Regions from separate parts of the Homo sapiens genome. Here region 2 is linked to region 1. Evidence: fine-mapped expression QTL. A gene starts in region 1. The other region holds a variant in brackets. All regions are shown on one strand. Distances are from middle to middle.

Evidence for each region. PIP is the estimated chance that this variant, and not a neighbour inherited with it, causes the effect.
Region 2: its variant is the best candidate, but not a certain one, in a credible set for the expression of DTHD1 in whole blood (INTERVAL, PIP 0.64).

The regions. Positions count from the first base shown.
Region 1 is chr4:36,269,360-36,285,916 of GRCh38, reverse strand. DTHD1 (death domain containing 1) reads right to left here and starts at 4,301. Exons shown (of 10, transcript NM_001170700.3): 1 at 3,888-4,301; 2 at 1,326-1,941. The coding sequence starts at 4,158. LOC439933 (a long non-coding RNA gene) reads right to left here. Exons shown (of 5, transcript NR_122079.1): 4 at 12,869-12,970; 5 at 11,702-12,682.
Region 2 is chr4:36,303,487-36,320,043 of GRCh38, reverse strand. It overlaps DTHD1 (death domain containing 1), which reads right to left. Exons shown (of 10, transcript NM_001170700.3): 6 at 13,692-13,853; 7 at 11,551-11,840; 8 at 3,558-3,802. Among named protein-coding and RNA genes, the nearest start is that of DTHD1, 30 kb to the right of the region's middle. The variant TA/A (reference allele first, on the strand shown) is at 7,458.

The DNA of each region.
Region 1 (16,557 bases):
AAGAAAGTGAGAGTTTTTGGAGCTAAAATAAATGAATAGACTAACATTTACCTGGTGTGAATATCTGAAAAAGTGGCCTGGTGTTAGGTCGTTTAAGTGATTTTCTCATTTGACCTTACCAAATAATCCCAGGATGTATATATTATTTCTACAAATAAGTAAATTAGGCTGAGAAATGAAGCAAGTTGCCCAGGGTCACAGAATTAGTATGTAATAAAACAGAAAGTGAAATTTAAGTTTGTCTGATGCCCAAAACACATATTTTTTTTTTTCACTTCTAAGCGTGTTATGTTTGTCTGGGAAAATATGGTCTGTGAATATCTTATTTTATACGGACAAATAGGGCCTTATTACCTCTTTGCACAGGAGAGAAAATTTATAAAATAGATTGGTCTTTCTCACTTTTTTGAAGTTATGGTCTCCTAGAGAATCTGATGACAGTTCTAGACCATATCCAAGGAAATGAAATAGGTCTGAACATACACATTCAATTTTAAGTACCTCCCAAAGCTCATCCATAAAATCCCTAGAGTTCTACAGACACGGGTTTAAAACTCATAATGATTTTCTTGAGAATATAAATAAAGTGAATCTGAGGCTAAAACATTCTCTCCAAATCTTCTAACACCCTACAGTCTTCTAGTTTTTCTTATTATATTTGAACTCGTAGTAATTTGCAAAGTATTCATGATCTGGACAATTGCTCATTTTAACTACTTTCGTATCTACTCAATTCCTTCCTCTTTAAAAAAATGTAATGTGTTTGTTTCTTAAAGCTATAAGAAATAAACAATATTAATAATAGTGGCCATATAAATTTTTATAGGAGTGATTTAAGCTGAATTACTGATTACAATATCTTTGGGAGGTATGAAATGGAAATACTATGCATGTTGCTATAGTCTAACTGTTTGTGTCTCCTCAAAATTCATGCATTGAAATCCTGACCCCCAAGGTGATGGTATTAGGAGGTGGGTCCTTTTGGGATATGATTAGGTCATGAGGGTGGAGCCCTCATGAATGAGATTAATGTCTTTATAAAGCAGGCCCAAGGGAGCTTGTTCACTTTTTCCACCATGTGAGGACACAGCAAGAAGGCACCTTCTATGAACCAGAAAGCCCTCACCAGACACCAAATCTGCTAGCACCTTGATTTTGGATTTCCAAGCCTCCAGAACTGTGAGAGATAAATATCTGTTGTTTAAAAGCTACTCACTTTATGATGTTTTGTTGTAGCAGCCTGAATGAACTAAGACATGTACTAACTATAGAAACACACATATAAGTAGGCATACTTAAGCACTTCCCACATTGCATTTACTTACTCCTTTTCCATTATGTTATTCTTGTGCTTTATATTCTCTGAATCATTGGGAAGAGTACTATTTATATATTTCTTGGAGATATCACATATTATTGAGGATGTGGTCATCTCTTCTCTTGGGCTTTCTGAAGTCTCTTGAATTTCTGTCTCTGTTGTCTGAATTATGCCATGAGTCTCTTCCCTGTTGCCATTTATGTTCTCAACAGTCATGTGTTCTATTTGTTTATCATCTTCATTTTCTGCATTATCTGGGAACATTTTATTCTGTGACTCTTCTTGCCCCAGTACACGTCCATTCAGTGATGTATTGTTTTCTTTTTCCACTAATGCTGAACTCATATGTGTTTTATTTTTTTCTAACTGGACCTGGTTTGTGTAATGACTTTCCTCTCCATTTGTGGGAGAAACAGTAGCTGTTTCTATGACATTTAGTTCCCCTCTTGCAGCAATGTCTGCTGCTTTGGTATCTTGAATGGAGGACATTGTCTGCTGTGGAGTACATTCATCATGCATGCCGCATAAATTACAAATCTCCTTTTCTTCTTTCTTTAGAAGTGCAGCAGTGCTCCCCAAATGTTCAGTTATTTTTATGAGGCAGTCTATGAAAGTAATGATTTCTACACACACATACATGGACACACAAAGAATAAATACAAAACTAAACCAAATTATGTTTCTGCACTGACATCTAATGAAACATGGCAAGATAATTTTAGAAACCTACAAAGACCTTTACTGTGCATTTAAGCCAAACTCCTGAAGGAGAAGTAATTGTATAACTGTCACTCTTTTAACAATTGTAGGATTGACAACAAACCATTTTTAACATGGTAGCAAAGAGTAAATCTAATCCCTCTTGCTTATAAAGATACTTCGAATATTTAAAGACAAATGTCATAACCTCTTGCTCCCCCAATAAGAACTGAAGTCAACATCTCCCTCAATTGTTTTTCATTTGGTATGATTTTGAGAACTCTTCTTTTACCACTGGATGTACAATAGTTTATCAATGATCCATTTAAAATGCTGGGCTGAAAATTAGGCGAACACTCCAGATGAGGCTTGGGTGGCAGAAACACCATACCTCCATTATTTCTGCCAATGTAGATGCTTTGTTTTGGAGCCTAGTTTACTGCTATAAGAATTGGATTAGGTTTATACTATTCCTCCTGATGAATTTGTGAGCATTGGAAATTTTCAAATTAGTCCTTCAGAGAATAGCTCTGACCATACCAATTCTCTGATTGGAACCTGAAGTGGCTACTCAAAGCCTACTAACTCAGGTCAACCTTCTTCACTCTGAAGTAAACTCTTAGCATGATCAAATCTTATATAATCTCTCACTCCGTCATCATTCTTCCCACTCTCCTATTTGTTCATCCTGCTTCTCCTCACTACTGAGGTCACCTGATGACTTCTTGCAGGCTTAGTACCTCTCTAGTCTTTAGAATTCAGTTCTGAACTAAAGAATAGGTAATTTAAGGCCCCATAGCTTAGTGTTTTTAAAGCCATCACCAAATCATCCCTTCACCAGTCAGGGCTTTTCTTTGGGATCCAGTTCTGACAACTTGTGTTTTGTTTTGTTTTGTTTTTGTCTTATACCTGAGAACTTGTCTTTATTTTTAACTCCTATTCTGGTAACCAAGTCCTTGTTTTTTTCTGAATATATATTTGCTTGTTATATTGCCAAAGACCATGTTCCACTCCCTCCAGAGGCTAAAGGTCTCATTGTGGGCTGCAGCTGATGGCTTCTCAGTCATGCTGCCTTTAGACAGATTTCCCTGATGCCCACTATTTGCCCTTTAGATTGAATTTCTTAACATCATCTACCCTGGATTTCCTCATAGATGGAACCTGCCCACTTATCTTGATACTGTATTATTTAGAGTTGAATTTCATGATGCCACCTATATGCTTATCTGGAGTAACTGTTGTTATCTAGGATTATATTCATCAGATTCCACATTCTTCCTGCCTTACTGTACTTTTCCACATCCATAACTGGACCTATTCCCAAGAATCCCTCTCCAGCCCCAGTGCATGGGGATCCAATTCCCTATCCCAACCCACTCCAGTCTTCCCAGTAATTTTGCAATCAATAAGGCTAAGCTCAAATGACCCTAGAGATAGAATACTATATTCTGATATAAAAAACAAACTACTAGCTCTGCCTCAGTGGCCTGTATTTTCCTGTCTCTAAGTCTTGGATCCTACTAAAATTACCGACTCTCTCTTTCCTGCTGCATAAATCCAATTCACTCTTTAAGCTTCAGCTTAAATACTACATTTTTCTAGCAAACTTCTCAATTCCCCACCCTACAGATGGGATTTAAACTGCTTCTGAAGTCCAAAAGCACTTCATTCATGTGTTTCTAATGGGACTGGCCCCAATGTCCCTGGCATTATTGTGCATTTGTCTCAACTTATTTCCCCTTTGAAATTGTTAGTCTCTTGTGGACAGAAACTCTATCTTAGCCTATCTGGTATACTCATAGCCCCTCTCAGATCTTGCCCTAATCAATATTTCTTAGAGAAAGAATAAACTAAAAAAAAGAATACTTGCCTTTTCTCGAGACACATTGATTCTCTTTGTCAAGCAGCACATGCAGCTGCTGGCAGGTGGAACGCAGGGTGCCTGAGGTGTGCTCCAGCAGCTGGTGAAGGGCACTGCTGAGTTCCTGACCCAGAAAGACCACAGTGGCCATCCAAGTGGCCCCACCAGCCCCCTCACAAAGGTCATCACCCAAGAGTGCCTGCTTTAGCATCTGGTTTTGTCTCCAAATCTGCTTCAATATTTGGCCCAGTTTACCTGAGCCCATGTATTCCATATCCATTTTATGATCCAAAAGTGGTATTTTCTCTCCTGCCAGCAAAGCCTAAAGGTTTTGCAAATTCAAACTTTGTGATTGTTATTTCTCCTAAACTCTAGGAGATGATCCGAGTCAGCTAGCCCAGCACTTTCTCACAACATAGTGGTTATTCAGTTTGGTGTTGACTAGTGAAAAGTTACTAGGTGACCGAAGAAGGGGCGTTCCTGTACCATGGGTGCTACTGTGTACAGAATACATTAATCACTGGGGTAGAGCTGACTCACATGATCCAACTCTCTGTGTAAGTTTTACAAATTCAATATACTGTGGAAGTACCAAATACTTTTCAAGTTTTGAGGCAACAAAATACAGATTCCAGGTAGGGTAAGAAGTTTATTAATCAAAGGTAAACTGTATGAACAATATTGCTGGCAGGATTCCTGTAAACTTAAAAATATTTATGAATGAAATAATGTGATGTCTGATTTTGCTTCTAAATAATCAGGGAGCATAGGGGTGGGTAGAGGTATAAAATTTGCTGTAAGAATTAATAAATGTTGAAGCTGGATATGTTTACACATGGGGTCTTGACAATTCACTCTAATTAATGTGTATATGTATAGTATTTTTATAACCAAGAGTTTAAAAAGATTCCTCTACTGGAGCAGAGCCTATTGCATTGGTTAGGAAGTTATAATTAGCATCTTCTTATGTGGTAAATCTGCAGAGACTGAGATAAGAACTTGGCCTCTGATAATTTCCCTCTAATTGGATAAAATGCCCCTTCACTGAAAGAAAGTAAACCTGAAGAGTAGCTTTCTCTAAACTAGCAAGGATTCTTTACCATATGTAATTAAAATTCAGATACAACAAGCTCTCCCCACTGCTGCCCATCTGCCTGCCAGCGCATCATATATGGGGCTATGCAATGCAGCACTTGCGGGTATTTGGAGGAAACCAGAACAGTCTGCCTCCCTCTCTCCAATCCCACTGCTCAGAGAGAACACACACCTAAGCCAAAGGAAGAGGGCAGCAAGTACATTCCAGAGAGGCTCATGTTCCCTCGGGTACTGGAACAAAATGAAAGCTTTTCAAGTGGAAGCCGGAGTGCTTCCCTCCCACAGGCAACACATTATCTCATCTTAAGCCCTGGAGTTCTAAGAGCTACACTCAGGGCACCTGGAAGACAAGATGGGAAAAACAAGCCCAGAGAATAAATAATGAAGAATGACTGCCACTGCCCTAAAGACTGTCAAAGACCCTGAAGGAAAGGAGCAGTATTGAGTACTGGTGGCTGCAGAGTGGAGAGGGGCTCCTTCACCACTAAGTGTCTTATTTTTCAGTTAACTTCTGTTCACTGAAAAGGGGACCTTTTTCGCAGTATGAGTTCATATCACTTCATGGATTGGATCATTTAAATCTTCTCAAACTAAAGACTCACTCATTCAATTCTATTTTCTTTTCTTACTCCTTAAATGGATGTGTCATTCTCAATAATAATGTACACATGGCTTTAATTCAATGCTAATTTTGAAAACTTCCTATAGCATTTACTGTGGGACAGGAACTAAGTGCTGGAGGTCAGGCCTTTTTAGGATTTCAAGAGACAGATGCATGAACAGATTATTGAAATAAAGCTTAGTCTGTGTTGAGAGCTAGAGCAGAAGTATAAAGAAAAAGTATCATAAAAGCTTTGAGGAGTTAAAAAAATAATTCTGCTTAGAGGCCTGGAAAATGTTTGAATTAGAAACTAAAGGATAAGCAGGCTATGGAGTAAAAGAAAAAAAATATTCCAGCATAGGAAATAATATGATCAAAGTCACGGAGGCATGAGATTACACAGTAGGATCAAAAATGTAAAAGTATGGCTTTGGAGGAAGGTTCAGTTAACGAGTCAGAGGTGACAAATGAAGAGTTCAGTAATTGTAGATAGTGAGGAGAAGAAATTAGAATTTTGGTTTACAGATAAGACAGAAATTGAATATATTTGAATCAGACTGCAATGTGATGAAATCTGTGCTGTAGAGATGCAGATGTATTAGATGACAGAGATATAAGAGTTAGGAGGCTCGAAGGTCTGTATAAAACAGCAACAGAGCAGATGAGAGAAGGGGATGGCGTGAGAGGGGATTTGAAGTACAGTGGATAGAACTTACTAAACTTACCAAACCATCAGATTATAGGGAGAGGAATAGAAAGTATTGAAAATGCATTCATTTATTTGAGAAATATTTATTGACCACTAGTATAAGAACTATGCTTAGTATTAGAATATGACTGAAATATTTAATTTAGGTGATTACATAGACTATAAGACTATTAAGGAATTTAAGTGGGATTTTGGGCTCGATGGGTAGATAATTTAATTTTAGATTTGTTGAGTTTGAGGTAACTCAGAAAAATTCCTTAGAATGTGTTTTAAGTTTAAAAATTAGAATAATATTGGCATATTTGAATGTTACCAGTAAATAAGTGGTAAATGAATCCCTGGAAGTAGAAGAGATCAATGGAGAATTTACCATGCACATTTTAAGTATTGAATAAAACTGATAATGAAATACTGCTTGATCATTTGAGCAGTCTACATTTATTTCTAGATATGTGGGAAAATCCTTTCTCAGGAAGAAAAAAACAAACCCAGACATTCTCTTTGTTTCATTCACATTTGCTATCCTCAAGTTTAAACTTGTTCTCTGTTTGGCTTCTTAAGAACATATAATATTTGCAAAGTGAGACCTACCACAGGCCACACTGCATTTACTTGTTAAAACACGCATCAGCATGTTCCTGCACCTTATTTTCCATTAATTGATGTCACTAACCACAGAAAGAACAGACATTTGCAGTCAAGACACCTACAGAAGTTCACTGCAGAAATTCATCTGGATGATTTTAACATTTGATTGTCATCTTCATTGTTGCTACTAGTTATTATGACTCCTTTTACTTTCTTACTGAAAATTCAGTGCTTCCATTGACGTTAGTATGCAGTCTTGAATTCATACCATTATGTGGTCAAAAAGACAACAGTTTTTCTTAACATTAAAAGTATCAGAGTGGATTAGAGATAAAATTCAAATAGTAGGATAGTTCTTTGTTTAGTACCTAAAGAAATAAAAATATGCAGTTGATTGGACAGGCTATTAATGACAGGCTATTAATTGCAAAGGTTGTGAAGACAATAAAGTTTTAAAGCATAATGAAGACTGCTATTTTTCATGGCATTTATAGTGGGTAGTGGTGGGTAGGTTAGATGTAAGCAAAAGAGTTATGTATGCCTGAAGTATTATGAGCCAATGTTATTAGTTCTATAATGTGATTTTATTTTCATTGAATTTCTGTAGTTGCCTACATCAGAGACTTTGGTACTTACAGTCCAGAATAATTTTTCCCCTTTTGAACATTCATATTCAATGTCTGGTCATCTTTTCCCTGTTTAAGATAAACTCATGCATTTGGATGATGAGTGGATGGAGAAGGAAAAGAAATTTTCTTTTTGTTTTGTTTTTGTTTTCTTTAGTAACTTTTGGACTAGTAAAATATAAATTATATATTCAAATTTTTAATGTACTTACCAATTTGAAAATGTTTTCAAAGACCACATGGTAAAAATCAAAGCTAGCACTTCTGATTAAACAAAGTAGACTAGATATATATTCCATCTCTGATTTCTAGTGAGATGCCCTGAAAAGGATAAAACAATATATAAATCCCAAAAGATAAAGAGAATGGGCAATAAAATGATAGACAAAAGACGTCAACAAACTCCTGGAAGACTAAAAGCAGATGGGCAAGTAGCAAATAATCAAACAGGGCTGAAACCTAGGCACCCAGACAGTGGAAAACAGGTGAGTTCTTGTCACAGAATCTCAGAAGTTCCCGGAATAAGAGAAAGTTAGGACCTCTGAAAGTAAAGATGAACTTAGGGCTGTAAACAGGTGTTTTTGCTGAAACTCTGTTTGGAGAGCAGGTAGATTCCCAGATACCTCGCTTCTGCCCCAAAGAACCAGGCAACAATCTCTCTCCCACACATCAGAAGCTAGAGACTTTCTCTATGAATAAATCGTGGCAGCAACACTCAGCAGAGCAGAGAACTGGAGGGGGTGCTATGCTGACCATGAGGGTTAAGTGAAATTCTATTATGAGGTGCTGCTCTATTCTTCTGCTCAACTCCAAGAACACGAGCTGGGAAGCATAACCTTCCAGGCAGAAAATGGAAAGTTTCCTCCATGGAGTAACTGAACACTCCATGAGAAAAACCTACTGATAGTGAAACTTTCAGTGTCCCTCTCCCTATTTCCAACCCCACAAGCCTGGTCTGCCCCCGCCAGATCATCCACAGTGAAGCTCTGCATCATATAAAGCTTCCAAACTAGGCTCTTCATGCCTCACTTTAAGTGGAATAACAACCAACGAGGTCAGGCATTTGAAAAAGCCTCTAATATAAAGCTAGAGACTAAAGTAAACAAACAAAAATAAAGAACTTGGGAAAAAAAACAAGAGAACAAACACAGGGAAGAGGAAAATATCAAATCAATCTATAATTAGCATGTTCAGAGTCTAGGATAAGAAGAAATAATGCACTCACAAGACAAGAAAATATTTTCTTTTTTTTTTTTTGAGACAGAGTCTCACTCTGTTGCCCAGGCTGGAGAGCAGTGTTGCAATCTCAGCTCACTGCAACCTCCGTCTCCCAGGTTCATGCCATTCTCCTGCCTCAGCCTCCTGAGTAGCTGGGACTACAGGCGCCTGCCACCACGCCCGGCTAATTTTTTGTATTTTTAGTAGAGACGGGGTTTCACTGTGTTAGCCAGGATGGTCTTGAACTCCTGACCTCGTGATCAGCCTGCCTCGGCCTCCCAAAGTGCTGGGATTACAGGCGTGAGCCACCAAGCCAGGCCGAAAATATTTTCTTTAAAAGGGGAGCATTCTGGCAATGAGAAAGGACTCACAGAAATTAAATTATGATAATAGAATTTTCTTAATATGGGAAAGAAAAAGCGGTTGAGTAAATTCCCAAAAACATCAAACAAAAAGACAAAGAGATGGACAATAGGGGTAAAATGGAGGTTAAGAAAATTAAAGGTTAAATCCAAGTGGTCCCACTAATATGAGTTCTGGAAAGAGAAAGTAGAATGAATGAAATTATCAAAGAAATAATATCGAAATATTTCTCAGAATTAAAGTATATGATATTCTAGACAGAAAGAGCCCAGAACAGTATATACAAAAAATAATCATAACCAGTCATATCAAATTCACACCAAGGATCAACATTCCAGTAGCCTCCAAAGAGGGAAAAAACTGTCACATTTAAATCAAAAGGCATTGAACTTCTCAACAGCAACACTAAGACCTAGCAAATAATGAGTTGTGATTTCAATATTCTGAGGGAAGCCTCTTTCCAATCCAGGATTCTGTTGCCAAATGCCAAATGCCAAAGCATCATTCAGGTGTGCCGAGAAAGAAAGGGCATTTCGAGTATGCAAATGTCAAACTACTTATCTCCTGTGTACCCATTTTTGGGAAGCTACTCACAGATGAACTCTATCACAAGAAACAGAATGACACAAGAAAAACGCAGACATACGAGTCAGGAAATGGAAAATCCAGCAAAAGAGAGAGAGCTAAATCAAATGCTTTAGATGAAGTCCCAGGGTGACAGCAATGCTGTGGCCCTAGAAAGCCCCCATTCCAGACTGCAGCAGTCACCTGAGTGTTTCAGAAGTCTGTCTGCAAGCAGAAAAAATGGAACTCATGAATTAGCTGATGTTTTAAACATTTTAAGAGAAGTTTTACAATTCTATTAGAGAATTGAGGAAAAGAATTGTTGATAATTTAGCAACAGAAACAAAAGACAATTATTAAAACTGGGAAAAACTAAATTGTAAAGAAAAGGATATATAATTATAGTGTATTGCATAGTTCTGTTATGAATAATATTTATACAGCCACGGTAATAAAGACGTTTATAATTACTTTAAAATAAAAATTGTGGGCTGGGCGCGGTGGCTCACGCCTGTAATCCCAGCACTTTGGGAGGCTGAGGCGGGCGGATCACGAGGTCAGGAGATCGAGACCGTCCTGGCTAACACGGTGAAACCCTGCCTCTACTAAAAACACAAAAACTTAGCCGGGTGTGGTGGTGAGCACCTGTAGTCCCAGCTACTTGGGAGGCTGAGGCAGGAGAATGGTGTGAACCCAGGAGGCAGAGATTGCAGTGAGCCGAGGTCGCGCCACTGCACTCCATCCAGCCTGGGCGACAGAGTGAGACTCTGTCTCAAAAAAAAAATAAATAAAAATAAAATAAAAATTCTGATACATGTGTATTATTAGGACGAGTATAGGAGGTATGTACATAGCAAATGTGTATAGCAGGGTGGATACAAGAGAGCAAAAAGTCTTATTTCTATAGCAGGAAGTCAAATATTTAAAAATAAATCAAACATTTAAAAACAAAGAAAAACTATTAGGAATCTGGAGGTAAGTGCCAGAAGAAACTTCTAAAAGGTTTAATGTGATTGCCTCTGGGAAAAGACATGGGAAAGAACAAAGCAACTTCTGACTTCCAGGAGCTAGCCTGGCACTACCAGCAAAGCCTTGGGGTTGCTACCAGCTGTCCTGGTACTCACAGCTAGGTGTTAGTATTCTGTTGAACATTAAAAAAAAAATTAACATGACATCAGCACTATGATGGATCAAAACAAATTGAAAATCACTCTACAATCATGTCTAAACACATGAGCATTGTTCAAGCCACAAAATACGAAACATTCCCCTCTCTCAGCTAATACGAATGAGGACTGCTTCTTAACAATTGCATCTTTAGCATTACTCTAGTCTGCCCTCTCTAAGGATAAGACTTATCGAGATACCCAATCACAGATTATAACCACTTTTAGAGAGCATCCAATTCAGAGCGGGAAACTTCCGTCGAGTCACCCAACCAAAGCCCAAATCCTGTTATAAGTCCCTTTTAACATCCTTCACCTGAGACACCCCAGGATTCTCTGTGGTGTGAGTTTTCCCTCACTGAAATGGGTAGTGAGTCCTGCTTATTCAATTATAGGTGTGCTCCTGACGGCCTTATGCTGGAGGACAATGACAGATGCTCAGGTACTTGGGGAGGAAGAAGAGCAACCTGCAAGGATCTGTTGCTTTTCTTTCAAGTTGTTGTCATACTATATGATTTTTTTAAACTATGTGTATTATATTACTTTGATATAAACTAAATTCACATGTTAAAAATGAAATAAGCCAAATGTTGCATTCCCTAGGGATCATTTGATGGTGATATTAAGGTTGACACAGCGCATCACTTCAAGTGGGTTACTTCAGATCGGCTAACATACACTCCGTTGAGTTTGTAAGAAGTAATTCACCATTTGAAAATGCTTGGAATTTGGTGGCACATGCTCAAGAATGAACTCAAATTTAAAGCAACAAATGGGCTGGGCATGAACTTCAAACAGAGGTAGAGTAACTACCACCTGGTAATGGCTTAATATCTCATACTTCATCCCGATCACAGAGCTCTAGATACAGCAGAAGGTCAACAAATGTTTGATGATTAAGAAAATGTTGAAATGTAATAAACAATCCACACATTATTTTAAGAATATCATCATATCATTCCCCCACCTAGAAAATAATTAATAAAATTCCTTAATATCACAAAAATGTGGTCAGGTTCAAATTTCCAATTGTCTCTTAAAAGTCACAATTATTTTTACACAATTTTTAAGAATTAGGCTCCAAATAAGGTCCTAAAGGCAACTAACTCCCTTTTAATAATTCTCATATGAATTATGAAAACTGAAAAATGTATTTGAAAAAACATATACCAACAATGGAGAAATTTAATTATAGGCTGGAAAATTATCTTTCATTTTTGTCATTTTTATGTGGATGAGGAACAGACGTAAGGGAATTAATTCGAAAGAAGTCACCAAATTTGAAAAGTCAATAGACATATTTGCAGAGATATTTTCATTCCTTTGTGTTTAAGTAAATTCTTTACCATTCCATTAAAGTAGTTACTGATTTTGACATGTTTTGTTTTACATAGAAGTTTAGTATGAAAGTTCTTACTGGCAAGTTCTGCATTCACTATGTAAAGAAAATGGCTTGTTTTGGTGTCAAGAACTGAACTAGAACTGAAAAGTAATTACGAGTATTCAATTATTTGGTTAACAAAAGCGCCTTCTTAACACCATTAATGGCCTCTGAAATCAACATCAGTGTTTTCGATTACAGCTTTGCAACATGTCGCTGTGAGTCATTGTTGTGTTTGTAAAGATTATGACTCTTTATACAGTCATGGGCCTGTGACATGAAACCAGTGAAATAAATTTTCATGAAACCAATGAAATAAAAACCAGACAATTTTATCTTCTGTCAAAATCTTCTGAGACAAATGTTCAAATGAGGGTGTGCCAATGCATTGCTACAGTATACTTTATGGTATCATAGTATTTGGGATGTGTTTCTGTGCCATCTTCATTGCTTGACTTCTACCAGGATGTGAATAGTGATTTGAGAAGTAGTTCTGAAAAAGACAAAGAGGAAACACATGAATGAAAAAGAGTTTTTTAAAAAGAAGACAAAGAAAAGGTCTCATATGTGTTGACACTAACATATTCCTCCCAAATCACTTCCAGGTTCTCTGTTTTACTTCTGGACAATCATAACAAAATTCATCAATTAAACATGACTGTCCTATTCTACATCTTACCTCCATAAAAAGTCCCTTCTACATGCACTCCATGACATCTCTTAGAGACGTCATACACTCATCCCTTTGAATGTTGAATTGTCAGCAGAAATATCCCTCGCACTGTAAAAATAAATTTGCAAGAATCAAATTATTCAGCATAAACTCAACCCTCAACATCAAGAAAACTCTATCTTGAAGTAGGGAAATGATGCAAAAGAATGCCTAATTTGTTGCTTTTTAGAAATATTTGAGCTCTTCCAGCTAAATTTCTATGAGCTGAGAATACCTCAGGACCCCATAGTGTTCATCATTACTAAAAGGATGACATTGTATACAATGAGCCTCCAAGAATATTTGTTTCTCAGAAAAATGAATATATATATATTATAAATGGACAACATTAAGCTATTTAGGAGTATAACTATTTCCCCTCTTAGACTGTTGCTATCTTGACACATTTGACCTTATGCTATCAACTATCTTACATTATTTATATCCACTATAGGCATTAACCATGTCCAATATCAGAAGAGAAAATGTTATCAATCTTCTTTTTTACTTTACTTCCCCTCATCACTGTTCTTATCACCAGGTTCAGGGACATTCTAGAACCTCAGCAAGTGGCAATAGGTGGGAGGAACAGCCATGGCCGGCCCTAGGCTAGCATGTTTATTATGAAATTATCACCGACATCTCCTTTCTGGCCATGTTTCCCATCCATCTACCCCTTTCAGCGTATCTTCCAAGTTACCCTTTATCTCTTGCTGCCTTGTGTCATCTGTCAAAAATCACCCAAATAAACCCACTTGCATTAGAGTCTTGGCAGGTGTTGATTCTCCTCAGCAGCATTATTTGATTTTTTTTTTTGACACAGTCTCGCTGTGTCACCCAGGTTGGAGTGCAGTGGCACAATCTTGGCTCACTGCAACCTCTTCTTCTGGGGTTCAAGCGATTCTCATGCCTCAGCCACCAGAGTAGCTGGGACTACAGGGACACAACACCACCCATGGCTAATTTTGTAATTTTAGTAAAAAGGGGGTTTCGCCATGTTGGCCAGGCCAGTCTCAAACTCCTGGACTCAAATTATCCACCCACCTCGGCATCCCAAAATGCCAAGAGCCACCGTGCCAGGCCCTATTTGAATTTTTAAAGAATGAACCTGTAATAATAAAATCTGAAGCTTCTATGGGATGCCTTTCCAGGTGCATCTCAGCCTATGTGTTAGGTCTGTATGTGAAATGATATCATTAGAAGCATGTTGTTTTCAGCATTGTCAGAAATACATAACTACTAACTAGTTCATTTCTTAATTCAGAATTAGCTGTAACATTCCAAGGAAGCTGCATTTGATTTTTAAAAATTTATTTTACCTCCTTGTGATAAAAATGAGAGCAATGGTGAATTAATTTCTATCCTAGTGGAGAAGTCATTTTTGTTAGACAGAGTCTATCCAAGATTGTGCTACTGTTTAAAGATGTTATTGCAGTTACTGGCAGACCCAGATAACAGCTCCGATGTAATCCCAGATTCCCATATTGAATTAAATCTGATTTGGGTTATTTAGGTCACATATTGAAGAAATGCCCTCTCCGTGTCATTTCTCTGTAAATAGTGGGTGTCCTTTGGTTTTCTCTATAATATACATTTATTTTTGGAGCTCATTAAACAGGTTAGGTAACTTAAATAGGTCTAGTCAGTAGACAGGAGTTAAAGCTGAGGATAGAGAAACTCTCTGTGGTATTATCTAACACACAAGATGAGGGTTGTTCTTAATTCTTGGCTCTTACCTACAAAAGCACTGAGAGAGCCATTTGAAAATAAGGTCTTAAAATCAGATCCATATTTGAAATGGAAAAAAAAAGACATCACCTTTTATATTTGTGTTTCTTAGGAATATTAATTTTGTTTTAAAAGCAAAAACTTTAATAGACAGTGGATGTTATAAGAGCCATTTTGTCCAGGTGGGGGTGAGAGTAAGGAAATTCGAGCTTAAATAGTATAATACAATTTGTTTTCCCCATCTCTCTTCTCATAACTGCTTTTGTTGCAAATACATAGTTGCAATTGCTTCTTAATCTTAAATCAGTCTGTATTTTTGAAAGTCTAGAATAAACTGGGTGCTTAGGAGTTAATGATCTCATTATACTTCAGTAATGGTGCCATATGAATTCATGTGATTATACAGGATAGTACAATAAAGTCAGAACCTCTGGTGGGAAGTGGCTTCCTTGTGTCTTGAGGGACTTAATTCCTCAGTGTCTCAATTATGTCCTAAGAAGGACCGATGGTACTAGGAAATATATGCCAGAATGTTCAGTACTAGAGGACTTCTCTTATTTCAAATGTACAAGAGTAATAATATATTCACTCATGAGAGAAACTGGTGCCTCTGTTTGGGTTCTTTTAAAAATCACAATTTCATTCATTAAATTTTCAAAATGTTAAAGATAGCTTAGAATAGTAAAAAGGAGTAATTTCTAAAAAACTGATGATTACTAATTCAATATCTGGAAGTACAAGGAGCCCTTGGATTGTATTTTATGAAATAAGCTGTAAGATTTTAAGATATGGATTGTTAACATATTCAAAATAGTCTTATTAAAAAACTCTAGATTTTTTTTTAAAAAACAGACTTTCAAATATTTTACTGTACTTCACTTGGTCTCATTTCAGCAATAAGATCTAAACTTAATACCTGGAGAATAATCTCAACATTCTTAAGGACCCAGAAAGTGGAGTACTTCAAAGATAGCATGGGACATGCCATAAATTAAACAAACAACAACAACAAACGCAAGAAAATATCTTCAGTATGCTTTTTGAGAAGAGGTAATTCATACGAGGACTATTTATGAGTAAATCAGGGTGTTATGATGACTTTTTAATGAAAGTTGGAATTCTTATTCTGGTCCAAAGAGATAGCCATGTGTTTGAATGACCTTGAAGACTGTTATTTTGAACCATTACGTAATCCAGCAGCTGTGGCAATGCCCTTTTCTGAGATACACAAACAAAGAAGCAAAATAGAATAGACAAGTGAATTCTTGAGAAAGTTTGCACATCGCCATGTAGCTATGTGTGTAGAGTGTCAGCCTCCATACAATGTTAACTGTTTCCAAGTGATAGTGGTGATGCCCAACCTGCAGTTTAGCTGTGAGATTTGGGCCAGTAATTGATGTTACAGCCCATTTAGGGACGACTTTAATTAACATCACCTGTGAGCCATGAATAGCGCAAACAGCAAGTCAAGATCATCAACAGTCATCCACTGTAGGGAACCAAATGTATTACCAAATCTCTGCTGGCTAAAAATGAGGACTGCTGACCTGTATAACTACATATTACAGAGAATAAGAGCCCTAAAGTGAGTCATTTGTCCATCAGCCAATATAGATTGTGTTTATTGTATACTAAGCATTGTTCTAATCTTGGAGGTGGCTTAAATAGTTTTTCTCTCTGTGGATCTTAAACATCTAGCTGGAGTGACTAAACTTGCGTTTGATAAAGATCAAAGAAAACTAAAAATGTACATTCAAAAGAGCAAATTAGCAATGTATTAAACAAGATTTTTAAAGAATGCATGAAATAGACAAGAAAGCAATAGAGAGAAACACAACCAACAGATGTCAAATATCAAAAACTTGAGACATCCTCAAATGCAACTTCAAACTGTTGCATAGACCTCGATTTGTGGAAAGAACGGGGGA
Region 2 (16,557 bases), 34 kb before region 1:
TATGGTAACTACAGTGATAAGGAAAGTACAAAATGCCGTAGCTCCATATACCAGGAACACTTAACCTGGTACAAAGGAGGAGTGAGGGAAGGCTTCCTTGGCAAGGCTGCACTTCAGCACCGATGTGAAAGAGGTTCAGTAAGAATTACTCAGGCACATAGGTAAGGAATGGTGTGTTACAAGCAAAACAGAGAAGAAGCTGACGCAAAAGTACTGGACAATCGTAAACACAGACTTTTACTGAGGAAAATCTATACAAACCCCTAAATTATCTATGTTGGCTAATTTGGCTTGACTAATTTGGCTACTTTTATAAAGTCAGGCAACAGAGGAAACACTAATAAGTGAAAGCTGAATTCCTATCACATTTTTGGACTTCATGTCTGTCGTCTCTGACATAACGGCCTTTCTTTGCATGGTCTGCCATCATCTCAGTAAGGCCCTTACCGCCTCTTGCCAGAGAATTCCAACCACCACTGGCTTGTCTCCCTTTCATCCTCTTATGGCAGCAAAGCAACGTGAGGCTTTCTGGAAGCAATGTGCCAGCTGAGCTGCCTGGAGAGCAGCCCTTAGGTACCCCTCTCCACTCCACATCTTCATGCTGATCCACATCGATGCCTTAGCCTGTCAGTTAAGAGTTTGTAGAATCAGGCTCTAAACTACGGAACAGAGAGAATTTGAGTATTCCTTCAAGTCAATAGTTCTTAAACTTTTAGAATCTGGAGACAGCTATAGACCTCCCCTTATTCACCAAGTCATAGATATTTAGGGTGCCTACTATGTGCCAGGCACTGTTCTAATCACAGAAGAAGGAACCTGGATAGAATAGACAGGGTCCTTCATTCATGGAGTTTGCTTTTTAAAGAAGCAAAGGAAAATAGAAAATACATGAACAAATAAATCTAAAAATATCAATGATGAGTGTTAGGAAGTAAATCGAGAAAGGGTAACAAGTTAAAAAAGTGACCTCAGATTAGAAGATAAGGGAATAAGAATAACAAGTGACATCTGAGCTGAGCCCTGAATGATAAAGAAGCAGCTATGGGACTATCTCAGGGAAAATTGCCGCATGCGTAAGTAACGGCCGTATGGTGCAAAGTCTTATGGTGGAAATGAAAATGCACAGAAGAGGCCAGGCATAGTGGCTCACGCCTGTAATCCCACCACTTCGGGAGGCCGAGGCGGGCGGATCACGAGGTCAGGAGATTGAGACCATCCTGGCTAACACGGTGAAACCCCGTCTCTACTAAAAATACAAAAAATTAGCTGGGCGTGGTGGCGGGCGCCTGTAGTCCCAGCTACTCGGGAGGCTGAGGCAGGAGAATGGCGTCAACCCAGGAGGCGGAGCTTGCAGTGAGCCGAGATCGCGCCACTGCACTCCAGCCTGGGCGACAGAGCGAGACTCCGTCTCAAAAAAAAAAAAAAAAAAAAGAAAAGAAAAAGAAAATGCACAGAAGCAAAACTGATAGATGTACACCAGATTGGCTGGCTATACTGTCATCAAAGCCTCATTTTCAGTATCAATGGCTTAATAAATTCCTCTACTTATGCATGCTTCCCATGGACCACGGGATCTCCCCCAAAACAGCAAGTAAAGTTAATGTCGCCAGGAGACTGTTCCTCTGTACTGAGGGCTGCTTTCAAGTTCACTGGTTGGTGTCCAGGTCATATCATTTGTTAAATATTTCTAATATTATCTCTGTACTAAAGCATAGTACAGACATCATACAACATCAAAGGTGTACCTGGATGCCCTAAAATCCATCTTGTATCTTTGACTAATAATCCTAGCTTTATGTGCTAACAAAGTGACAGCATAATAGCCATTCAACACACAGGAAGCAGATTTCTTGGGTCTGAATTTTAGCTCTGCCATTTACTTAGCCATGAGAACCTGGGCAAATTGCCTAAAATTTCTGTGCCTCAGTTTCCCATAAAATAAGAACAATTATGTATCATAGGATTTCTGTGAGGGTTTAGTGATACAATGCATGTTAAGTATTTGAAAGGCCTTTGGCATATTAGACATTATTACAATGGTTATTACACAACTTGTGAATTCCTGCTAAGCTATGCTTACCACCCCGGTCAAATGCATTATATTCTCTCCCCCAACTTGCCTTTTTTCTTCATTTCCACTGTCTGAATTTCCACCAACTTACAAAGCTCAGATAAAATGCCACAAACACCACAAAACTTCTACTGGTTACAGATTATAAAAAAGCCATTTCCCTTCTCTGAACAACTATTAGTACCATCTAGTACCAACTATTAGTACCACTGTTTATATCACCTAAATATAACTTCAATCAGTTACTATTTTACAACGTAATTTTGTGTATTGTTTTGTGTACTTATTCACTGGATTATAAATTCATTTAGAGAAGCACTATTCCATAGACATATAATTTGAGATACATATGTAGTTTAAAATATTCTATTAATAGTAACTATTTAAGATGTTTAAAAAATAAAAGAGGAAGTTAATTTTTATATATTTTATATAACCTCATATAACCAAAATATAAATTTACCATGTAGTCTATGTAAACAAATTATTAATGAGATAGTTTATATATTATTTGTACTGAGTCTTTGAAATGCAGTGTGTATCTTAAACTTACTGCCCATCTCAGTTTAGACTAGCCATATTTCAAGTGCTCCACAGCCACATATGGGCAGTAGTGACCATTCAGAACAACACAGCTTTAGGGCATGTATTATCCTTTACAGCTCTGTATTTATCACAAAGCCTAGCGCAGCACATCCCCTATTTCAGAAGTTCAATATTAATATTTGCTAAATTACTTTAATGATTTATTTTAAATCAGTGCAAAATCTAACCGCATGGAAAACACATTCCTGCTAGTCATAGACAAAAAATATAAATGTGGGAAAATGATTTTAGCTTTCTTTAAAGAATAAGAAGTTTGTTTTTACCTCAAGATTAATGAAGTAAATTTTTCAGTTATATTTCTTGTTAAAAAGGTAGTTTAGATTCACCAAGTCCTGTTTCACTGAAATAAACTGTAATATACAGCAATAAAATGTATTTATTTGTGTGTTTGACATGTTCAAAGAAATAATTTAATCCTACTTTCTGACATGAGTAAGAATTTTAGGCAAACATAACTCATGAAACAACCATGCAGAATCTGGTAAGTTTCAGTATAAATATTTTGAGGTCATTTTTCTCTTCACCATGACTTTTCCTTAAAATGATGTGCTCTGTAATGTATTTTTTTCATAAATGATTTTCCAGTGACTCAGAGGCAGTTACAGAAAATGAATGACATTATTTTCATAGTTAGCAACAACATGCTGTGGGGACCAGACCAATCTGAAGCATTCTTGTTAGAAAGGCTGATATGAACAAAAGGAGAAATCCTAACATGTTTTCTAATACTCTAAAATTGGACCTACCTACTCCTTCTTTATTACCTCTATTCTTACCTTTTCTTTTAACTGTATGTGTCTCTATGACTGAAAAACTGATTGTGTTACAGAATTATAAATAATTAACAAAATGTAGTAATTAGAAAAGTAAAATAACTCACCTTTGGCAATTTCAATGGTAATTTGCAAATTGGCAACTGAGAATGGTTTTCATTAATTACGAGAGATTGATTCAAGTTGGGGACTATCTTTCCTTTAGGTACTTTATAAACGACAATGGTGCCTTTGTAATGAGGGCAACTATAGTTTCCAAATTCGTCCACTTCTTTGATTTGGAGTTCCAGCCTAGGTTTTCTTTGCAAGTGAAAAATAAGTGTGTAGTCTTTTCCATAATCCTTCCCGTTGCCTAAATAGAAGTAAAATGTATTTATTACCATTAAGTTATCTCACTTTGGGAGGCCGAGGCAGGCGGATCACGAGGTCAGGAGATCGAGACCATCCTGGCTAACATGGTGAAACCCCGTCTCTACTAAAAATACAAAAAATTAACCGGGCGTGGTGGCAGGCACCTGTACTCCCAGCTACTCGGGAGGCTGAGACAGGAGAATGGCGTGAACCCAGGAGGCGGTGCTTACAGTGAGCGGAGATCACGCCACTGCACTCCAGCCTGGGCGCTAGAAGGAGACTCCGTCTCAAACAAACAAACGAAAAAGATGTGCCACTTTGTGTTACTTAATTTTAAAAAATCCAAATAATTATTTTATTTTAAAAATACGATTAAAACTTTTGTGTATCATTGTCTTTTGTCAAAACATAACCTGACAAAGGAGCAATAGGCAGAGACCATGTAGATTACTCGAAAGATTTCTCATCGGTTGTTGGGCCAGGTGCTCTCTGGCTGCTTCTAAATCAAGTAATCTTTAGCTTTTCTTTCTCTATTCCATTTTGATATAACCAGAAACTACTTGAAATATTCAGCTTTTGCAGCATTTAGAAAATTATTTTCACCCGTTGAGAATTATCTTTTTCCTTTCCCCTAACTATTCATATTGTGACCTCACAATAGACATTCTAGAACTGCACTCTCCTATAACATGTGGCAATTTAAGTTTAAATGAAAATTAATGAACAGTAAATAAAACTCAATTTAACTCCTCAGTCAGTCTACCCACATTTAAAAGTCTCAATGACAGCATAGGCATAATGGCTACCGTAATGAACAGCACAGATATAAAACATTTCCACAAGTGTGGAATTGGACAGTGTTGATCTAGAACTTTCAGGTGTAATAGTTATTGAATTTGTGTTACTGAAATTTCTATGAAAACCTGACAGATTCTCCTAAAATGATAATATATAAATGTTTTATCAACTCCTTACTGAAAATTCTAGAGCTTTTGTGAACATAACCTTTCACTTACTGGGGTTTTATCATGACAATCAGGATATTTCACGTTGTTATTTCAACAGTAGAATAAACACTACCATGTTTCCTAAGGCAATATATGTCTACATCAAAATTTGTAAAATTTGTAGGAAGCTATAATGTAGCACTTAAGATGATATGTCTTGGATGTATAGATCTAGGTTCAAGTGCAGCCTCTATGATTTGTGTATTCTGTAATATTTATCTGTTAATACTTGTCCATTGTTTTTCATATCTCTGAGCTTCTTAGAGCCTGAGCTTCCCTTAGCTTCCTTACCCTTAGAACAGGAGAAATAAAGCTTAACTTCTAGGATTGTTTAGGAAATGAAATGAGAAAATTTGGATAAAATAATTGTCATAGGGCCTGGCACACAGTAAGTGCTCAGTAAATGACAGCAATGATAGCAAATGATAAGAGGCAGGATTCTTCCACTATTTGGAATTTGCATGCAAAAAAAAAAAAAAAAAAAAAAACTCAGATTGTTTAAAGAAATGTCAAGACGAAGCTTTTTTTCTTTTCTTTTTTTTTGAGACTGAGCCTCACTCTGTCACCCAGGCTGGAATGACACAGCTCCACAGTGGCACAATCTCAGCTCACTAAAACCTCCACCTCCCAAGCTCAAGCTGTCCTCCCATCTCAGCCTCCCAAGCAGCTGGGACTATAAATGTGGGCCACCACGCCTGGGTAATTTTTTTTTTTTTTTTTTTTTGTAGAGACGGGGTTTTACCATGTTGCTCAGGCTGGTCTCGAACTCTCCTGAAGGCAAGCAATCCACCCTCCTTGGCCTCCCAAAGTGCTGGGATTACAGGCATGAGCCACCGCACCTGGCCAAGATTTAGCTTTCATGTCTACATGGAAACTTCCTTCGGTTATTGTAAGCCAGCATGCAGTTGACTGCCCAGAGTTCTCCCTCATGGAAAACTTTCCATTTTGCCCAGTGAACAAAGACTTCAGTGAGAGATGTAGAAGATACCATGACCCTTCTCCCGGTCCTGACTGCTTGAGATCATTTTGGTGATTTTTCTAAAGCTCAGTTAAATCTAGAAATAGAATAACTCCAGATTACAGATGGTGTAGGAGTAGATCCCTTTGCAAAAGTTTATATTTGAGAGGCAACCTGGCTACTTGGAAAAAAAGAAAAAAAAAAAAAACAGATTCCTAGGAGACAAATGAGTAGCCAGGGTTTGTCTTCTTAAGAGTGTCTCACTTTGGTTAAAAAAAAAAAAGTAGACTATTTGGGGTCATTTAAATGTTATCTAAATAGTAAATTAGGTAAATTGGGGTTTCCAGCTCACTGGAGTAACATCTGGCTAACTTCTGTTTCCATACTACTAGAGTGCTGTCAAGAAAACTTTTACTACTTTGGTCCCTGTGGAATACCAATTAGTAAATTTCCCCTTCTATCCCTTGAAAGACATTATACTCTCTGCCGGGGGCACAATTATTCATAAGAAATGGTTTACACAGAGGATATAAGGGTTGAGGGTGAGGCATAGCCACACTGGTTCAATTGAGACCTAAAATGTATACCAATTTTTAAAACTAAAGACCTCTAGGGCAACTCTCTAAAGATCACATTTATATATGTAGTTGGGATGAAATTATTGAAGATTTACTAGCAGTAAATAGCATAATCTTCATGTTGTAAACAGAAACCATTATGTAATTTTGGAAAGTTGGAGTTTCATTGTTGTTAAGGCATAATAATATATTTTAAAGACTCCTGGCCCCTGAACAAAAAATAAATCCAAAAAAAGAGAAGTGGCATGAAGAAACTGCACTACTCTGTTTTTTTTTTTTTTTCCTCCCTCACTGGCATATTTAAAGGAGAAATAAAAGAAAAACTCATTCATTCCATACCCAAAGTGTAAAATCAACCAGTAATTGACCTTTTGAGAATCTTTTTCTTTTTCTCAATATCTTAAGTATATAGTCCCCTAGAAGTGTCTTGAGATAGTAGCTATTTAGTAAATACTTGTCATGTAAAAAGTTCCAGAATGTACTTATATTTTGTGGATTACCTGCTGTCCCTTATAGCAATATATTTTCTTCTCAATAATGGGCATTAAATATTTTTCATTGATGACATAGAAAATACAAATGTAACAATAAATATTTTTGCTTAGGGAAGTCATATTTAAAAAATTGAAAGTGCTAGCAGTCCGGGAAACCAGAAAAACCCTGTGAGAACCACTGGCTCAGTGTATTTCTATATTGTAACCCATTCCCCACCAGCTCTACCTCTAAGCCATGCCATTTTTTGCCTGGTTTACTGCAATTAAACAGTAACTGATCTCCTTGCTTCTCCTCTTGCTCTAAAGCCTATTCTCAACGCAGTTATAATCTAACTCTGATCACTTCTCTGTTGAAAACCCTTCATGTTTCCCCAAATCACTCAGCAGAAAAGGCAGTCTTTCCAATGGCCTACAAGGCATGATCAGTTCTCACCTCATCTCCCACAACCTGTGCTCACTCCCTCTGATCCAGCCATCTCAGGCTCCCATTGTTCCTCATACACACAAGGCAAGTTGCCACCGAGTTCAGTGTCACTGGCAATCCCTCTGTCTGGGATAAACTCCCTGAGATAGGATTATGGCTTGCTTCCTCACCCGCTTAGAGACTTTTTTTTTTTTT[TA/A]ATGTCACCTTTCCAGAAAGGTCTTCCCTGAGATAAAACTGCAAGCCTGCTACACCCTTTAAGGTCCCCCTATCCTTTCCCTGCTTTATTCTTCTATAATTCACTTTTCAGCCCAAATTAAGCTATGCATTTTATTTACTTATTTGCTTATTCTCTGTCTTTCTTCATTAGACTTTAATATACCTAAGATCAACAAATTTTTGTTGAGCAAATTAAAGAATGGTTATTATATAGGTGTAGAGATAGATGTAGAGATACATCCTATAGAATATCTAGAAAAATCACTTCCCTGGGCCAAAGGGCATTCAGGGCAACTTTAAAAGGCAGACCTCACAGGGCATTACTAGATGTTATGGATGATGCCATGGTGTCATTATATAAAATCATATTAAAACACTTCCTGGCACTTTCTGGATTTTGTGTGCAGTTGGGGCTTGAATAACATGCAATAATCCAAGTGCTAAACTGACAACTCTAACCTAGAGAATGAAAGCTTGCTGTAGCTTGTTTCCAGAAGAATGCCAAAAACCGTCATAAAAACCAAAGGACGCACCTATCCATCTTCCTTCCTATTAGAGATAGAAATACAGTCCATGTCCTGTGACCTTCACTGAAAAGTCATTCATATTCTCTATAAGTGAATAGAGAGATTTTGGCATTTCTCAAAGGCAGTAATCTAAATTTATTAATTAAAGTTTTAAATACTTTTAATTGCACTTAATACTATAATGCTTTTTTTCTAAACTTTGGTCTTCATTTCTTTCAATGAATACTGAGTTTATTCTAACTGTCAGGCTCTGCCCTAGGTGCTGGGGACTGAATGCTGCCCTCCAATAGGATGGAGACTGAATGCTGCCCACCAGCAGGACAGTGCCTCCATGGATGTGACCATGGTAGGAGAAACTGGCATTGGTCAAACAATTAAATGAAAAAATAGAAAATTGCATGTGACAAAGGCCACAAATGAAAAAAGGAGGATCTGCAAAAGTATAATAGAACTATTAAAAAATAAAATAAGGTCTGACATAATCAGGAAGGATAGAGAAAGCTTCTCAGAACATGATAGTTGAGGTGAGATCTGAAGATACAGCAGGAGAGAACTGGGGGTGAGGGTGGGGGTGGGGAGGGCGAGGAGAACCCTCCAGGCAGAGAATCTCTAGCTTTATCTCTTTGAGATTCACAGAGACTACGCTAGGCCCTGATAAAAGGATGGATCTATGCTTTTACCAGGATGAGGTATCAATTGTTTACTGAGGATCTTTTCCCTCTTAGGCAGAGAAAAACCCAGTGAGGCTCCAGATCTGAGCCTGTCTCCCTAGGAAAAGCAAACCCAGGATCTGGGTATCCTGCCTGCTCATTTTCCCTGAATGAAGATGAACTCTTCCCCAACCCTTATAGGGAGGAATTGCACAGGTGACGGCTGCCTTGGACGCTCTTGGTTTAGCACGTGCTCCCCGGTCTCCACAACAGGCAGTGGGATATTCAGTACCACTGCTTGTGAGTAGAACAGTAATGCACTCCTATTTAGGGTGGTTGGTAAACACAGCTGCTGTCCACAGTATTACAGGAAAATCATTTGCATCATTCGTTTGGGTGGGACCCTTCTGCTTAGTACTATGTCTCAGTAGAGAGATTTCTCCAGGGTGGACGCTGTGGTTTCTGCTCCGGAAGCCAAGTAGGAAGGGGCCTCTTCCACCCTTCCTTCCTCTCCCTCCTCTCTCTTCCCTGCCCCCTTCTCTGCCATCTTTGTCACTTGCTCACTAAGTCCCGTCAGCTGGCTCAGATGCTGAGATCCTGTATGTGACAGTAGAATAGACACTTAAAATTGGGACACTTTAGGTCTCACTTATTCCTGAGATATCAAAAAAGCTGGGAGGGCAGCATCAGCTTCAAGCCTTGTCCCTTTTTTGAAGCAAAAAAAGAACCAATGAAGCTTGGAGCTATTTCCTGAATCAGAGAGAAAATAGGCATAATAAAATTAAATCGGATCCATATTAATTTATAAGTAAACGGAGCACATCCCCTCAAGTAAAGTATGTAGAAAGCCTCCTGGAACAGAAATCTTCATAAAACCTGTCCGGAATTTTCCCTCTCACCTCATTTTTACACACACACCTGTCTGATTCTATTCCACCACAGGGCAAGCAGTTAGAAAGAGGAAGGTGTTGGCTTAATGAAAAAGAAATTGTTGTGATGGCAACTCTTTCAAAGACGTTTCCTCTCTATTCCCACACAGCTGTTTTCTCTTCTTGTTCTTTTTCTTCCTTTTCTCTTTCTCTTCATCTCTTTCCTTTGAACTCTTTAGTCTCATCTATTCCTTCACTTCTGTAATCTCTCCTGCCACCTCTCATATTCATCCTGCTTGCTTTCCTCATCACTGTCATATAATCATTCATTCACTACACACTTATCAAAAGCACTTGCATGTTCACTGCAGCACTATTTACAATAGCAAAGTCATGGAATCAACTTACGTGCCCATCAATGGTGGACTGGATAAAGAAAATGTGGTACATATACACCATGGAATACCATGCAGCCACAAAAAAGAACAAAATCATGTCCTTTGCAACAAAATGGATGCAACTAGAAGTCATTATCCTAAGCAAATTAATGCAGAAACAGAAAACCTAATACTGCATGTTCTTATAAGTGGGAGCTAAACCTTAGGTGCACATGGACATGAGGATGGCAACAATAGAAACTGGAGACTACAAGGGCTGAAAAACTCGTTGTTGAAATCATTCTCTAGATATAAATCTATCAAACATTGTACAGAAAAAATGAGGATGATAGTTTATTTGTCAGTCAATGATATTTCTTCAGTGTATTTGATTAAAGTGTACAATAACTGGTAATACATTACTGGTGTCAGTGTTTAGTTGGGTTGATATAAAAAATAAAGCATTTTGTAAAGAAAAAAAAAGTTTTGGATATACCAGTTCCTATGTTAGGCTCAGAGGATATATTAACAAGAAAGACATGGTCATTGCCCTCATGAAGTTTTCATTCCGGTGAAGGGTAAAGGACATAGCATAACTATATGAACAAAAAGTAAATAAATTAATTAAATAATTTCAAATTGTGGTAAGATTTAGAGTGAAAACAAAAATAGCACTAGAGAAATATGGGAAAAGAAGCAAGCAAGGTATCTCGGCTCACTGCAACCTGCGATCTCGGCTCACTGCAACCTGCAACCTCCGCCTCCCGGGTTCAAGTGATTCTCCTGCCTCAGCCTCCCAGCGGCTGGGATTACAGGCACCTGCCACCACACCCGACTAATTTTTGTGTGTGTGTGTTGTGTGTATTTTGAATAGAGACGAGGTTTCACTATGTTGGCCAGGCTGGTCTCAAACACCTGACCTCAAGTGATTTGCCTGCCTCAGCCTCCCAAAGTGCTGGGATTACAGGCGTGAGCCACACACCCAGCCTAGATCAATTATTCTTAATTTCTTTTTTCCCATAGACTCCTTTAGAGTTTGGTGAAAACTGTCCATTGATTCTCAGAGTAGTCTTTGAAAAATATAAAATAAAATACATGGAATAAAAAATATAGCAATAATACTGAAATATAGATCTATTCACACATTTTTGGGAGTCCACTGACCCCCAGGTTAGATTCTTTGTAAAACATCTTAAAGAGTTTGGATATTATTTTAGATAGAATAGGAGGTAAAAATAAGGTTGTAATCACTGGTATAATATAGTATGATTTATGTTTTTAAATGATCACTCTTATTACCACATGGTAATTGATTTCATATGGCCAATAATGGAAGCACTTAGAAGGCAACTTTACTCCTGTAGGAAAGAGATAATCCTAGCTTGGACTCAGATAGTAACTGTGAAGAAGGCTATTTCTAAAAAGTGTCACTTAGAATCTTCCCATAAAGGAACATGCATTCCCTAAGTAGAGAATAAAGAAATAGGAACAAAAAAAGTATAATAAATAAGTCTTTTTCTCTTCCTACTTCCTAAAGTCTCTCGTCAATCCTCTGAAGGTTTCCTTAGTAACACAAGTTTAGCAAACTCTTCTGAAGAGCTTGTGGCTTATAGCCAATAAAATATATAAAAAGATTTCTTTATACTTACTTGAAGCAAATATGTTTCCAGTAAATCTTAAAAGAAGTTGTTCTCCTTCTCGAACTTGGAAATGACGAGATGGCTCTGGAGGTCCTCCAAACCCTTCCAAGTGCAGGTCCTTAAGCACCTGGCTTAAATCTTTGGAAGGCACCACTAAAACAGCTATTCTATGTGGATTGTCCTTCTGGTGAGACAGTACTATGCAGGCAGTGGTGCTGAGCATGGCTTCCTCTAAAGATTTCACAAAAGTAACCAAATGACTATTGTCCATGGTGGAAGAGAGGTGAAGTACAATAAACCTGCATGGAAGAAAGAGGTGAGACCCCAGGGAAAAATGCAGTGTCAAGAACATCACTGATATCTAATAACACCCAAGAAAAGAGTCATATCAAACAGACGTCTTTTAAAATCAAGTATTCTCAAAGACAACAGGTGAGATTCATTAATGATTGTAAAGAAACTCTTGGCCATCAAGAAACCAGCTCAGGCTGGGCACAGTGGCTCATGCCACTTGGGAGGCGTCCCAGCACTTTGGGAGGCCATGGAGGGTGGATCGCTTGAGCCCAGAAGTTCAACACCAGCCTGGGCAACATGGCAAAACTCAATCTCTGTAAAAAAAGAAATAAATAAAAAAAGAAACCAGCTGAAATCAAAATAAATTCTAAAACATGTTCTTAAACGAAGAAGTCATACAGTCTCAGCTCAGCTCTAAACATGGCAGCATATTTTAAGTGATATTTTAATTAGAATTACAAAAGAGCATATTTAAAATATAGAAGAGAAAGATGAGCACAATAATTTATTGACTCCATAGGATGCAGAATGTATACCATAATTAAATGGGGATTAAAATACGCATCTCTGTGTAGGTGGGAAGGATCGTTAGGATGGACGTTGGTAGGAATTGCATTGTGTCTCACCCTCCCCACACACATACACATTCATATGTTGAAGTACTATCCCCTAGTACCTCAGAATGTGACCTTATTTGGAGATAAGGACTTTACAGAAGTAATCAGGTTAAGGTGAGGTCGTTAAGGTCTTCTCTAATCCAGTATGACTGATGTCATAAAAGAGGGAAATTTTAACACATAGAAATGCATACAGAGAAAACACCCTGAGACCATGAAGATGGCCATCTACAAGCCAAGAAAAGAGGCCTGGGCAGATCCTTCCCTCACAGCCCTTGGAAGGAACAAACCCTGCTAGCACCTTGATTTTGTACTTCTGGCCTCCAGAACTGTGAAACAATAAGTTTCTGTTGTTTAAGCCACCAGTATGTGGTACATTGTTAGAGCAGCCTTAACAAACTAATACAGACCTCTTTCCCTGGACTGGGCTACCCATTCTCAAATTCTTCTTCAGTGATTTGGCCTAAAAGAGGCCCTCACCCAGAGCAGCCCTACATCCATAGACAAGGACTGACCAATGTGGGGATGTAAGGCCAGCCGCCTTGGTACTCGCACTGCAGAGCTCCCCGGAGCGTGTCAGGCTACAGAAATACTTCATCTGAAACCATGGTTTTTTCCATCTTCCTCCTTTGCCCTACAGGATTCACCCAAGAGCTTTCTTTCAATAAATCACTTGCTTTTCATCTCAGACTCTATTCCTAGGAAACTGGATTCAAGACAATCATAAATGTAAAACTTCCCATTATGAAATAAAAGCTATTTTTAGATATATGATCACCTGTCTCTATGAGTGGCTACTCTTCATGAACCTTAAATCTGTCTAAAACTCTTCTCATAATGGGCTGTCTAGAAAACATGGAAATGAGAAAGCAAAATGAGGGCACTGAAGTAACAAATTCCGCTTATCTATACATAGTTATGAGATATGCATAATATGAACAGTTAATTACTATCTCCATGGTATTTCAGAAATGAAGGTGCTATTTTAAAACTATTTTGGAGTTAGCAGAAACCTGTAGTTATGAGTGCTTTCCCAAAGTACTTGTTTAACTATCATAAATGAAATTACAGATAGCATACCCATGTCAATTCTGGTTTGTATTTTAAGTACCCTTTAAAGAATGGTTAATATTTCTATTCGAAGAATAAAAATTTAATCTTACTATTCCATTTCTATAAACACCAGTTATGACCATCAGAAAGAGTATCATCAACTTTGATTGTTTTTGATGGTATTACCTCTCCAAATGTTCATACAATTCAACTGATACCAAGCCGCTCTGTATGGTTTTCACAACATCATCAAGCCCACACCAACCACTGTCTTGGCTTCTGAATCCCAGTAATTTCAAACATTCACTGGCATTTTTCCTAGGTTTTCTTATGGAGGCAATTTTTGTCCTATATAATGGTAACAGAAGAGATATTGGTACAATTTACATGATATAAATCTTATTTAATGCATTCATTCTTTCATTGTGAATGATCTAATAACAATTCATTAAGTACATACTATGTGCCAGGAATTATGCTTTGCACCAGGAACACAGAGATCAAACTATATAACCCTTGCCCTAAAGAAGCACGTAGTAACACAGTATTATCTGATTACAGCACAAGGTGACTTGTGTGATAATTAAAGAAACGTACAGGGTGGTTTAGGAGCAGAAGCAAGAGGTTCGGGAAGCTTGCAAAGTGAAAATGCTAATATTTGAGATGAGCTTTGGAGAATGACAAGCTTTTTGCAACTGGCAAAATAGATTTAAGAGAGTACCCAAAAACATTAATAAACTCGCTGATGTAAACCCAGATGCTCTAGAATAGCAAAGAGTGGTTGTATAGCAAAAAAGGGAAGAGCACACACCCAGGAGCAAAACTGCCCAGTTTCAAAGCCTGGGTGACTCTGCCTCTTATGAACTGTATGACCATGGGCAAATTATTTGATTTCTTTCTGTCTGTTTTCTTACCTATCATATGAAAATAATAATGGTACCGATATGGTTTGGCTGTGCTCCCATCCAAATCTCATTTTGAACTGTAGCTTCCATAATTCCCACGTGTTGCGATGTTGTGAGAGGGACCTGGTAGGAGATAATTGAATCATGGGGGCAGTTTCCCCCCATACTGTTCTCATGGTAGTGAATAAGTCTCATGAGATACGATGGTTTTATAAGGGGTCTCTCCTTTTGCTTGGCTCTCATTCTCTCTTGCCTTCTGCCATGTAAGACATGCCTTTCACCTTCCACCATGATTGCAAGGCCTCCCCAGCCACATGGAACTGTGAGTCCATTAAACCTCTTTTTCTTTATAAATTATCCAGTCTTGGGTATGTCTTTATCAGTGGCATGAAAATGGACTAATACAAGTACCAACATCATAGAATTAAAGGAATTAATATTTCTAAAGCACTTATAATTGTAGTGAGCATAAATAGTATTAATATTCTAACTCTGCTTTCTGCTGTAGACACAGCCAATTTGCTTTCTTGTACAATTTTCCTTCTTGTGTAGCCTGCCCCACCCAAAGGCCCTGAAGAAATTGGCTGTATGTACCATGTGATACTTTTCCCCAACCACAGCTCATGTGACTAACAGTATACCAATTTCCAACAGCCAGCCAATTTGATTCTTTTTCTTTGGAATTTGACTAAGTGGCCCAGGGACTGTAACTTGTCACAGTCCTGTTTCTGTGGTACCTTGGTCAATGAAAATTAATAAGCAGAAAGATTATTCAGAAAGGAAAAATAGATGCTAAGAGAGAAAAAGGAGAAAAATCAAGAGGAGAGGATCCACATAGTCCTAGAGATGGAGAAAGCAGAGGTTCACTGTTTTAGCCTCACAATAAACTCTTTTCTTGAGTTCGTTTAAGTGAACATCTGTTCCCTACAACTAAAGGAAGAAAAGTCCCTATTACTGAACATCTTTGGGGAAAAATACCTAGTCTGATGATGCTACCTACACTCCACAAAGAGACAAAGCCATGGTATGTGAATGGAGACCAGAATGTGAATTTCATGTCTTCATTTGTCAAGTGAACTAGAGTTACACTCTAGTTTTAACTAGAAGTTAAAAACCAACTTACTTTCACAGGTTGACCTGTCCTATGACCCATAGATTCAGATTAGAAACTGAACTTGATTTAATATGTCTACTCTGAAAACTTCTTACTCTGTATTGGTTACTTCAGGAGATCAGCTAGATTAAAATTAGGAGCTTAGGGGAAAAATAACGTTTACTTTTATGCTGTTGGGTTATAACCACAGATATGGTAAATTCTATAACCCTTGGAAGTTAATAATTTATTCACACAGGAAGTTATACTCTTACTGAATCCAGAATATTGGTCATTTACTAGAAATTGACTTCAATGTAATTTTTTTCTGATAGCATTCATTCACTTTCTTTTCTGTCAAAACCTAAAGTATTTGTGGAGACCAACAGGCTCCCAAGGGTAGTGGGGCTGGTCCCTACTCCCAGGACCATTGGGTATATAACCTGAGCCAAATAATGCATTGGTCATTCATTAATGCTGCTCACCAGAATATCCAGTTTCACCCTGATCTGAATACATGACAGGGTTACACTTCCTGGCCTCTGTGGTTGAGTGGGGCCAAGTGACTAGTTCCAGTAAATGATGTGAATGAAAAAAAATATGTGTCACTTTGAGGCCAAGGACTTAATTGCTAATATAGGTCTATCCAAAGGTCTTTCTTCTGCCACAGTGATAGCAACCGAACAGTGGCTGTTCTATCTAGAGTGAGGATGACCAAGAAGCAGCCTACCTTTGATGGCCATGACAGATGCAAAGATTGTCATTTAAGCCCTTGGGATTTGAGAGTTTTGCTATCATGCCATAACCTAGGCTAATCTGTGCTATATCTGTCTTCCGGTTCCAGTGATCCATTCAGTGATGGATTTGTGACAGATCTGGAGTGAGAATCAGGCCCTGCACTTTTATGCATATTCATAGGGAAAAAGCTTCCTCTTTTCTACGAACTTAGACTTATAAAGATGTAACTATGTTGCCAGAATGAGGAACAAGCATGTCAGAGAATGGAATTGGCACAGAGGAAAGCAGATAGAGATGAAGAAGAGAGACTAGGTTC